Regions from separate parts of the Homo sapiens genome. Here region 2 is linked to region 1. The links come from fine-mapping of genetic effects on gene expression. A gene starts in region 1. The other region holds a variant in brackets. All regions are shown on one strand. Distances are between the middles of the regions.

The links.
Region 2: its variant is fine-mapped to the expression of SIRPG in whole blood (TOPMed, PIP above 0.99).

What each region holds. Positions count from the first base shown.
Region 1 is chr20:1,654,460-1,659,845 of GRCh38, reverse strand. SIRPG (signal regulatory protein gamma) reads left to right here and starts at 2,067. Exons shown (of 6, transcript NM_018556.4): 1 at 2,067-2,204. The coding sequence starts at 2,132.
Region 2 is chr20:1,632,731-1,638,116 of GRCh38, reverse strand. SIRPG (signal regulatory protein gamma) reads left to right here. Exons shown (of 6, transcript NM_018556.4): 3 at 1,612-1,929; 4 at 2,518-2,850. It overlaps SIRPG-AS1 (SIRPG antisense RNA 1), which reads right to left and starts at 4,609. Exons shown (of 3, transcript NR_110090.1): 1 at 4,397-4,609; 2 at 767-911. RefSeq lists an enhancer at 2,202-3,027. The variant C/T (reference allele first, on the strand shown) is at 2,233.

The DNA.
Region 1 (5,386 bases):
TGGCACCTGCCCCAGCCTCACTATGAGGGCTGCTCCTAATTGAGGCTATAGCTTCTTCTCTGCTTTCTTCCTGAGGGATGTCTCTCCCTTCCTGCAAGAGGTATCATAGTACAACCATTAAAAGTGAAGGCTGTGGAGTGTGGCAGCCTATGTTCCAGTTCTAAAAGCCGGGTGATCTTGAGCAAATTCATTACTCTCCATGTGCCTCGGGTTTTCTCACCTGTGAAAGGAGGTTAATGGTTGAGCTTACCTCATGGGGTCAGAGCAATGATTTAATGACATTACCAATAGAAAAATGCTTGGCACCATATCTGGAGCACAGGAAACTCTCAATAAATGATAGCTGTTATAATTCCTTCATGTCATATAGAAGCCAATTGCTTGTATTCAAGTGTAATTAGACATTGATTCATATATTCTTTTCATTTTGTGTTTTCACTACTGTGGGTGTGGAGAAGGAGGGGAAGATTTCACCCTGTGTACATCTGCCACATTAAAACAGGACTTTCAATTAAAACATGATAACATTTACAATTTGATTTGACAATTATTCATGACAGATTAAGAACCTAAAACCCACATGTGAGATGAAGGATTCTGGACAGGTCTTTCTTAGTCATAGATGCTGGAAGAGAAATCATTTCTTTTAACAAGGTGGCTTTTCTAAGGCACAACGGTGGCAGAGAACCAGTGGACTCTTCCTGTACACAGAAAATAATTATAGCCATGTTTTTTTGCTTATAATTAATTATGAGTCAAGCATTCAGTATGGCTTATATTATTCCTACCATAGCTCTACAAGGTGCATATTCTAACATTTATTTACATACAATCAAACCAAGGCTCAGAGAAGTAGTGTCTTTTTGAAAATCACACAGCTGGAAATTGTAAGAGGAGGAATTAATCTATGGTTGAACAAGGAGCGGGATTTAGAGAATCCAGAGGGAGAAACTGATTTCAGGGTGGCAGCGAGAGTCCAAATACACTATATAAGCTGGGTCTCAGGAGGCCTGGGTTGCTGGGAGAAAGCCACTGGTGGGCAACTCAGCATGCAGGAGGGATCCATTCAAAAGCAACATTTGAGTTCCCGCACTTCACCTGGCACCGTGAGTATCAATAATGACCTACTGGGTTTCAGGCATGATATGCTCATTACCTCTTTAATCGTCACTAAAACACTGCACAAAAAGACTTACTATTCCCAGTTTAGGAGATTGAAACTGAGCATAGGAGGGCCCAGCGACTTCCCCAACTCCTTGGCACACACTCTTGGCAGGAGCATGGATTTTTCCTCTTTCCTCATTTCCCATCCGAACTCAGTGATGAATGAAATAGGTGCTCTGTGTGTAGAAGAAAGGGTATTGAAATTGATGCGACGGCCCCAGGAACCTGCCCACCATAATCTTCCCTCATGATAACCCTATCCCCTTTCCATAACCCACAATCCCCACCTCACTCCACAAAGCAGTTGCTTATTACCTCAAACCCAGTTTCTCTCCTGGAAGGAGTCAAGAAATAATTCCTTCTGCTGGGTGCAGGCACATGAAAGTGCTAAGGTCCACAAGAGACTGAATTTGGGCTAAGTGTTGCCAATTATAGCAATTTGGAATAGAAAATCATTTCAGGAGAAGATCTGGTTCCTCTCCAGTGTTGAGCAGGTCCTGTGAACTCTTCTCCTACGTCCAGCGGAGTGGCATTTGGTTGAGGCTGGTGCAGAACAAGACCACAAGCCAACCACATCCTAGGGTCTTGAAATAAAGACTTTAGAAAACAATACCTAACAACAGATCTTTCTTGACTTAAAAGCCTCAAATGGCAAATCACCAAGAAGACCTGAAAATGGGTTTGGGGACACGAGGAGGGAGCACAGGTCCCAGGCAGGCAGGAAGCATTATTTCTGCTAACCCTGTCTGATTATCCTGAAAATGGAGCACGATTAACTCCTTGCTTTGTAGCTGCCTACTGTGCCTGATTTGTAAGTCACAATCTAGAAGCAGGTTACTGTTGCATTCCATCATAGCCACTTCCTCTTGAATTGAGGGAGGCAGGGCTTGTCTTCTGTCTTCAGAGCAGGGCCTGACATCTCCCCAGAACAGACGTTTGAACAGAGCAGGCTTCTGAGGTCTCCAAAATGCCTGTCCCAGCCTCCTGGCCCCATCCTCCTGGTCCTTTCCTGCTTCTGACTCTACTGCTGGGACTTACAGGTGAGCATTGCATTGGGCTAGAACCCTTTCTCCCTGCTTCCTGGACCTAGCCTTGCCCCTGGACTTGCAGCAATTTCAGATAAGCACAAGCACTGCCAAGGAAGGTCAAGGACTGGACATTGTCCAAGAGCAGAAGATCAGGGAGCTGAGCACTTTCTCTGTGGATCTGCAGCTGGCTACCAGAGGCATCAAACCTTGTGAGGCTTCTGCCACCATCACAATTAGTTACATTTTTATAATATTTTATTTGACAAACACAGAAGAATCATTATTAAATCCTTACCTGTCTTGAGTCCTCCTACCCATTTTTGTGTGCCCTCCTCCTCTTTAAGAAGTTCCACATTTCATGCTTACAGCGTCCTATATTCCTTTCTTAGGGCTTCCACAACAAAGCACCACAGACTCAGTAACTAAAACAATAGACATTTACTTTCTTTCTTTCAGTTCTGGAGGCTGAATTGCAAAATCAAGATGCCAGCAGGGTTAGTTTCTACTGAGGTCTTTCTCCTTGGCTTGTAGAAGGCCATCTCCTCCATGTGTCTTGACACATGGTCTTCCTCTGTGTGTGTCTGTATTCTCATTTTCTCTTATGAGAACATCAGCCATATTGGATTAAGGCTCCCCGCCAGTGACCTCATTTAACTAAATTGCTTCACCCATTTATGCCTAGTGCTCCGTTATTGGATCACTAAGCTTGCGGGAGTTATTTATATCCTACTGCTCAAGGGCATCGCCAAGGTCTGATTTTTCAAATTAAAAAAAAATTGCAACCTCGGGCATAAATGGGTTAAAGACCTTGTCTCCAAATATGGTCAAATTCTAAGGCGCTGGGGATTGGGGCTTCAACCCATTCGTTTTGGGGGCACATTCAGCCCATAACAGGCACCACCATCTCCCTTGGTCATCTTGACTTTCCTCTGGAGAATTTATTTTCCCTTCCCCCAGGCAGACAGGATTGGGAGGTCTTTCCTGGTGCCACCTGAGAGAGCCCTGTTCACAGCTCCCAGACAGGCTGCCTGTCTTCACCCCTTTTTCAGACCATGCAGCTGACCCCCGGTCACAGGGCTGGGCACAATAGCCTCTCAGTTGCCCACTGGGCCCTGCTGTGATGTCATCTCACAGGTCTTAGAGGGCAAGGTCTCACTTTTCAAATTATTTTTTTTACACATACACTGTACCCAAATGACAGCAGTAATAGTTCAGCAATTGCTCTCTTCCTGTAAGGCAGATGCACTTCTTAGCATTTTGTGTGTATTAAGTCAACTAATCCTCACAGCATCCCTGTGTGGAAGCTATAACTCTTGTGCTCTATTTGCAAATGGGGAGTGAGGCAGAGGCAGGAACCTGTTCATTGTCCCCTACTTCAGTCCATGGAGCAGTTGGGATCAAGTCCAGGTTGACCAGTTCCAGAGTTTATCACCCTTTTAACCATGTTATGCTATGTGTAGAAATATTAGAAAATGCAGGCAAGCAAACATTAGATTAATAATCACCCATCACACCAGTCAGAAACAATCAGAGGTAAAACACTAGTGTATGTATGTTTTCCCAAAATGTTAAAAATGTGTTGGATGGTTTCTATGTGCCAAATATTTTACTGAGATTTTTAAATTTGTCATAATTGTAATTAATGCACAAAACAACCTTATATACTAACATGATAAGCCAAACTTTTATATATATTTGTGAATGTGTATATATACACATTATATACACATATATATGCACATGTGCCTATGCATGTACATGTACATGCACAGATGAGATTTCATTTTTAATCATTGGTTCTCTTTCTATTTTCAGTGAAATTTTTAACAAAATAAATATTTTATTTTATTTTTATTTGACAAAAGTATGTATACTTATGTACAACATATTAAGAAATATGCATACATTGTGGAATGACTAATTTGAACTAATAAACATATGCATTACCTTACATATTTATCATTTTTTATTGTGAGAACTCGTAAACTCTGCTCTCTCAGCAGTTTTCAAGAATACAATTCATATTATTAAGTATAAACACCACATTGTACAATAGATATCTTGAACTTATTTCTCTTATTTAAATTGAAATTTTGTATCCTTTGACTAATATCTCCCCAACTACACCCCCTCTCTAGCCCCCGATAAACACCATTCTACTTTCTACTTCTATGAGCTCAACTTTTTAGATTCTTCATACGTGAAATCATACAGTGTTTGTCTTTCCGTGCCTGGCTTATTTCACTTAGCAGAATGTCCTCCAGGTTCATCCATGTTGTTGCAAATGACAGGGTTTCCCTTTTTGTAAGGCTGATTAGAATTTCATTGTGCATATATGCTACATTTTCTTTCTCCATTTATCTGCTGATAGACACCTAGGTTGATTCCATATCTTGGCTTTTGTAAATAATGCTGCAATGGACATGGGAGTGCAGATATATGTGTGACATGCTGATGTCATTTCCTTTGGATATATGCCAGTAGTGAGATTACCAGATCAGATAAGAGTTATATTTTTAATTTCTTGAGGAACCTGCATACTGTTTTCACTAATGGCTCTACTAATTTATATTCCCACCAACTGTCTGCAAGGGTTCCCTTTTCTCCACATCTTCTCCAATACTAAATTTCCTCTTTTTGATAATAGCCATTCTTAAAGGTGTGAGATGATAGCCCACTGCGGTTTTAATTTGCATTTATCTCATGAATAGTAAGGTTGGATTTTTTTTTATACGCTGACTTGCCATCTTAATGTCTTCTTCTGAGAAATGTCTATTCGGATCTTTGGCCCATATTTTAATAGGGTTGTTTTCTTATGGTTGAGTTGTTTGACTTCCTTATATATTTTGTATACTGACTCCTTATCAGATGTATGGTTTGCAAATGTTTTCTTCCATTCTATAGGTTGTCTCTTCACTCTGTTGATTGTTTCCTTGGCTGGGTAGAAGCTTTTTTAGTTTGTTGTTAATGCCTTTTGTCTATTTTTGCTTTTGTTGCCTGTGCTTTGGGGCTCAAATCCAAAAATGTATTGCCAAGACCAATGTCATGAAACTTTTCTTCTAGTTCTTGTACAGTTTCAGATCTTACATTTAAATCTTTAATCCATTTTGAGTTGATTTTTGTATGAGGCATGAGAAGAAGGCCTAATTTCATTCCCCTACACATGGATATCCAACTTTCCCAGCACCACTTTT
Region 2 (5,386 bases), 22 kb after region 1:
CAATAAATGGCAACTGGTTACAGCCTCTCAGCCCTCTAGGGATGCCCAATGCTGCTGGTGTCTTGATGACTTGACTTCTTCAAGTGACACCCTTCTTACTGTGCCCATAAAATGTTTGCATGTGGTAGGGAGCAAGTTAATATTTACAAATGCAAGTATGCCTAATATGTGTTTCCTGATGACTGCTATAGGAGGTGCAGGGTAATAATTAGCAATTTGGAGACACGTTTAGGACTCATCTACAGGGAGAAACTACCCTCATTTTTCTGATTCTCCAGTTTGTGTGCTTTCAGGACCCAGGATAGATTTCTGCCTGTTGGGGTGGCCTAGATCTTTGTCTCTTGTAATGAATTAACGATGAAGAAATCACCCACCTTTGGCTTTCTTAGTACTCAGTGATCATTGTTTTTGGACCCAACCTGGCCCAACTGAAGACCTAGATTCCAAGAAACCTTCCCTCTTTTCAAATTTGGGACTTGGCACAGATTAGACCTGCTAACTAAAAAAAATAATGATTGATAGGAAGGCCAAAGGAAATAGCATTTATCTGGGAAATAAAGAGTTGCAATTTGGGAACCCTGAGTCATGGTAGTCCTGAACAGTGTCCCATAGGGCAATGCAGGAAAAGTTTTGTACTGGGGACTTTCACAAAATGTTGTTTTTGAAAACAGTTCATTGCCTGGCAGAAATGCTAAACTGCAAACTCGTATGAATTGGTTACTTAATTAGGACACTCCAGGATGAGAGAAATCAAAATCCCATGTACCTTGACTTCAGTCCATTGTTATCCAGGTCTACAGCAACATCCTGTGGCTTGACCTTTAGCAGGTGTGAGTGCAATGCTCTTACAAACGCTTGACTCCATGTTAAAGCTTTAGCCTTAACTACTTCATTTTCTTTCAAAAACTGTACTGGAATATTTGTGAAAAGAATGAAAAATATGGAATAAATTCATAAATACACAAAGAGAGAGAGCTCTAGGTATATGTCAAGTCTGGATTAAAGACAGATCTGTGTTTATTTTTATGAAGCATCTTCTGACTTTGATCCAAAGCAAAACTTCTTCCATGGCCCCATTTAATCCTTGTTGCACCCCTGGGAAGGGAAAATGCTGCTGTCCCACTTTGCAGATGAGGGGCTGCATGTTCCAGGCCACCCCTCTCATGGGCTGAGCAGCCTGGTTGCAGGTCTCATGGTGGCGCCACTTTGCCATTGTTCCCTACTTTGGCTTCTGTAAACACCCTCTCTGAGGTTGGTGAGCTCTCCTGGGGAAACAGGCTAGCACCAGTTAATACACAGAGGGAGAACAATCAGTAACTTTGTTCCTGTGCCCAGATTGGTGGAAGTCACCCTATGTGGAGAGGAGGACTTTGAACTCAGACCTGGACTTCCCTCTGGGACCTTTCCCTACACTGTCTGACCTGGGGCTGGTCGTCACCTCTTCCAACCTTTGCATCCTGCTCTGTAAAATGAGAATAAGAACACCATCCTCTCCACATTATTAGAAGGATTAAAATTAATGTATCTGAAGGTTCTTAACAGTGTCACACACTCATCGTTAGTGATTGTCATCTCAGTCATGTCTCCTGTTTATCGATGCCCCTTTTGTAGCCAAACCCTCTGCCCCCGTGGTATTGGGCCCTGCGGCGAGGACCACACCTGAGCATACAGTGAGTTTCACCTGTGAGTCCCATGGCTTCTCTCCCAGAGACATCACCCTGAAATGGTTCAAAAATGGGAATGAGCTCTCAGACTTCCAGACCAACGTGGACCCCACAGGACAGAGTGTGGCCTACAGCATCCGCAGCACAGCCAGGGTGGTACTGGACCCCTGGGACGTTCGCTCTCAGGTCATCTGCGAGGTGGCCCATGTCACCTTGCAGGGGGACCCTCTTCGTGGGACTGCCAACTTGTCTGAGGCCATCCGAGGTAGAGGACCCTCACACCCAGCCCAAGCCCACACCTGGCTGTCAAGCCCACTCCCCTCTCCCCAGGCTGTTGCTCCAGAGGTTGAATGGCCTGTAATCTAATCCCTGACTATACTGCCCGCCCGCCATGCACCTAGGTGTGCTGGTCACTTACTATCATTTTATTGGCAGCGGTCAGGGGACCAGCAATCACGTGCCAAGCTCTGCGCTAGAGAGTTTCATTTATCTCACCAAGAACAACTACTATTAGTGAGTACCTACTATGAGCCAAGTCCCTATGTGCTCGGCGATTTCACTGATTTTG[C/T]TACAGTTCTTACATTCCAACTGCATGCCAGGGGTTGTGCTTGTAGATTTCACTCATTCTTAGCCTAGTAGGAGCTACCAGTCCTTGAGCACCTACTGTGCACCAGGCACTGTGCTTGGTAATTTCATTCATATGCAAAGAGCGCCCTCAATGTCTTAGCATCTGCTGCCTGCCTAGCACTGTCCTGGTGATGCCCTCACCGTGGTAGTGGGAGTTAAGTTATGGAGCCCTCCCTGTGATCTGTCTGTGCCAGAAGATCAGAGCTTCTACCCTGTGCTGTTTCAGTTCCACCCACCTTGGAGGTTACTCAACAGCCCATGAGGGTGGGGAACCAGGTAAACGTCACCTGCCAGGTGAGGAAGTTCTACCCCCAGAGCCTACAGCTGACCTGGTCGGAGAATGGAAACGTGTGCCAGAGAGAAACAGCCTCGACCCTTACAGAGAACAAGGATGGTACCTACAACTGGACAAGCTGGTTCCTGGTGAACATATCTGACCAAAGGGATGATGTGGTCCTCACCTGCCAGGTGAAGCATGATGGGCAGCTGGCGGTCAGCAAACGCCTTGCCCTAGAGGTCACAGTCCACCAGAAGGACCAGAGCTCAGATGCTACCCCTGGTGAGGTTACTCAAAATTTTTAAATTTTGTCTTTTTCTCTCATTTTAAAAGTAATATCCACACTTGCTGTAAAATAAGCTAGAAGTCTATAAATACAAAGTAAAATTTTAATGTCAGCTCCATCCCCCCAAATCCCACATGCGAAGAGTCATGACTAGTAAGAATTTGATGCACAAGTTAATAGAACTTTTGACATAAATATATGTTTAATTTTTTTTTTTTTTGAGACGGAGTCTGGCTCTGTCGCCCAGACTGGAGTGCAGTGGCGCGATCTCTGCTCACCGCAAGCTCCGCCTCCCGGGTTCACGCCATTCTCCTGTCTCAGCCTCCCGAGTAGCTGGGACTACAGGCGCCCGCCACCACGCCCGACTAATTTTTTGTATTTTTAGTAGAGATGGGGTTTCACCGTGTTAGCCAGGATGGTCTCGATCTCCTGACCTCGTGATCCGCCCGCCTCAGCCTCCCAAAGTGCTGGGATTACAGGCGTGAGCCACCGCGCCTGGCGTACATAAATATATATTTAAGGAGCAAAGAGGCAGGCAGGGGGAACCATCTTCTCATAGAGTCCTTTGCCTTCCCTTATTCCTTGAGAGTTGTTGTGCCCGTTTCTCATCAGCCCACCCTTGTGCTCCCTACTTTTTCTAACCTCTGCTTTGTTTCTGTTTCATCCAAACTTTTCCATCCTCATTTATGACCTCATCCCAGTACACCCTGACATCTGCTGTGTATGTTTCAGAAAGACAAATGTAGTTTAAAACTGTACCAGGCCTGGCGGCTCACGCCTGTAATCCCAGCACTTTGGGAGGCCGAGGCGGGCGGATCACGAGGTCAGGAGATCGAGACCATCCTGGTTAACACGGTGAAACCCCATCTCTACTAAAAATACAAAAAAATGAGCCGGGCGTGGTGGCGGGCGCCTGTAGTCCCAGCTACTCGGGAGGCTGAGGCAGGAGAATGGTGTGAACCCAGGAGGCGGAGCTTGCAGTGAGCCGAGATCATGCCACTGCACTCCAGCCTGGGCGACAGAGCGAGACTCTGTCAAAAAAAAAAAAAAAAACTGTACCAGGCCTGCAGGTGACCATGAATGGTCACAGAACGGACCTCTTCTGTGTCCTGATTGTGATATTTGAGCAACAATAATCACAAACCCCTCTGCAAATTTACTAAGTGCAAATTTCCATTCATCCATGATCTCTGTTTTTGCTTCAACCACCCAGTAAGTCTGGAGTTTTAAAGAAGGGGAAACTAGGACTTGGGAAGTCATGGGGGATGTTGTTGAAGACCTCTTGCCTTTAGATCGGGTTATTGGTTCAAACTAATTAAAGTAAATCTGGGTCCCTGAGGACAAGGTCAGTATCAGCCTAAAATGCAAATTTGTGCTAGTTAGAGAAACAGTCCTCTTCTGCTGGGCATTGTCCCATGGACCTGAAGTTGGCCTGTGTTCCACTCCGTATGACCAAAATATGTCTTACTTCCCTCTTGTGTAATACCAGGAGGAGTCTCAACTCCAGGAGACTTTTCAAAGGCCCAGGTTCCTCCCACATACCTTATGGTGGTTAGTCTTATCTGCTGGGTCAGTGCTAGGTCACGGATTTTTCCATGTCCCTGTCTGCTGGAAGAGTAAATATAGGAAATGGAGGGCAAAAAATATCTTCTATAATCAGAGATGTATGGAAGGCGTGTGATCATGTCCACAGCTAACTCAGTCATGCATGTACACGCAGTTCCAAATGGAATCCATAGTTGGGTGATCTTATGACTAAAGACAGCATAACAAAACCAGTATCATTATTACAGTTAATACAATTTCAAATTTTTAATCACTAAATTTCATAAAATTATTAAAACAATTCCCTTATATCATCTAAAATGGAGTATACATTCAAATTTTCCTCAAATTTCTTTTATGACTATCTTTCTGTGCACTAAATTTGGTTTTAATTCATATTTAAATGCTTTGCAGTATTTTTCTTTGAAACACTTGGGCCTCAAGAATTTTTGGGGGTGTTTTAAAAGTATAAATTCAATTTCCTCAGTAGTTTAGGGTTACTCATATTATTCATTTCATATTGGGTGAGTTCCGGTAACTCGTGCCTTTTGAAGAATTTTGTGTCCATTTTATCTAAGTTGTCATATTTTTGTGTGTAGAGTTGTTCATAATATCTCCTTATTATCTTTTTGGTGTCTGAAGGGTTATGGCGATATCCCCTGTTTCAACCTCATATCTAAAATATGCCATTTCTGTTTTCTTCTTCATCAGCCTTGCTATAGTTTTTTTCCATTTTATTGGTCTTTTCAAAGGACCACTTTGTTTCCGTGAGTTTTTAAATTGTTTTTGTGTTTCCAGTTTATTCATTTTTTGCACTCTTCTTTTTATTAATTCCTGTCTCCTGCTTGCTTTGAGTTTATTTTGCTCTACTTTTTCTAGTTTCTTGAAGTGGTGATTTAATTGACTTGAGGCTTTTGCTCTTTTCTATGTCATTCCTTTGCCTCCGTTTATGGCTGGGGCTGGTGTTGGGGGATGGGTCCCAGGTGC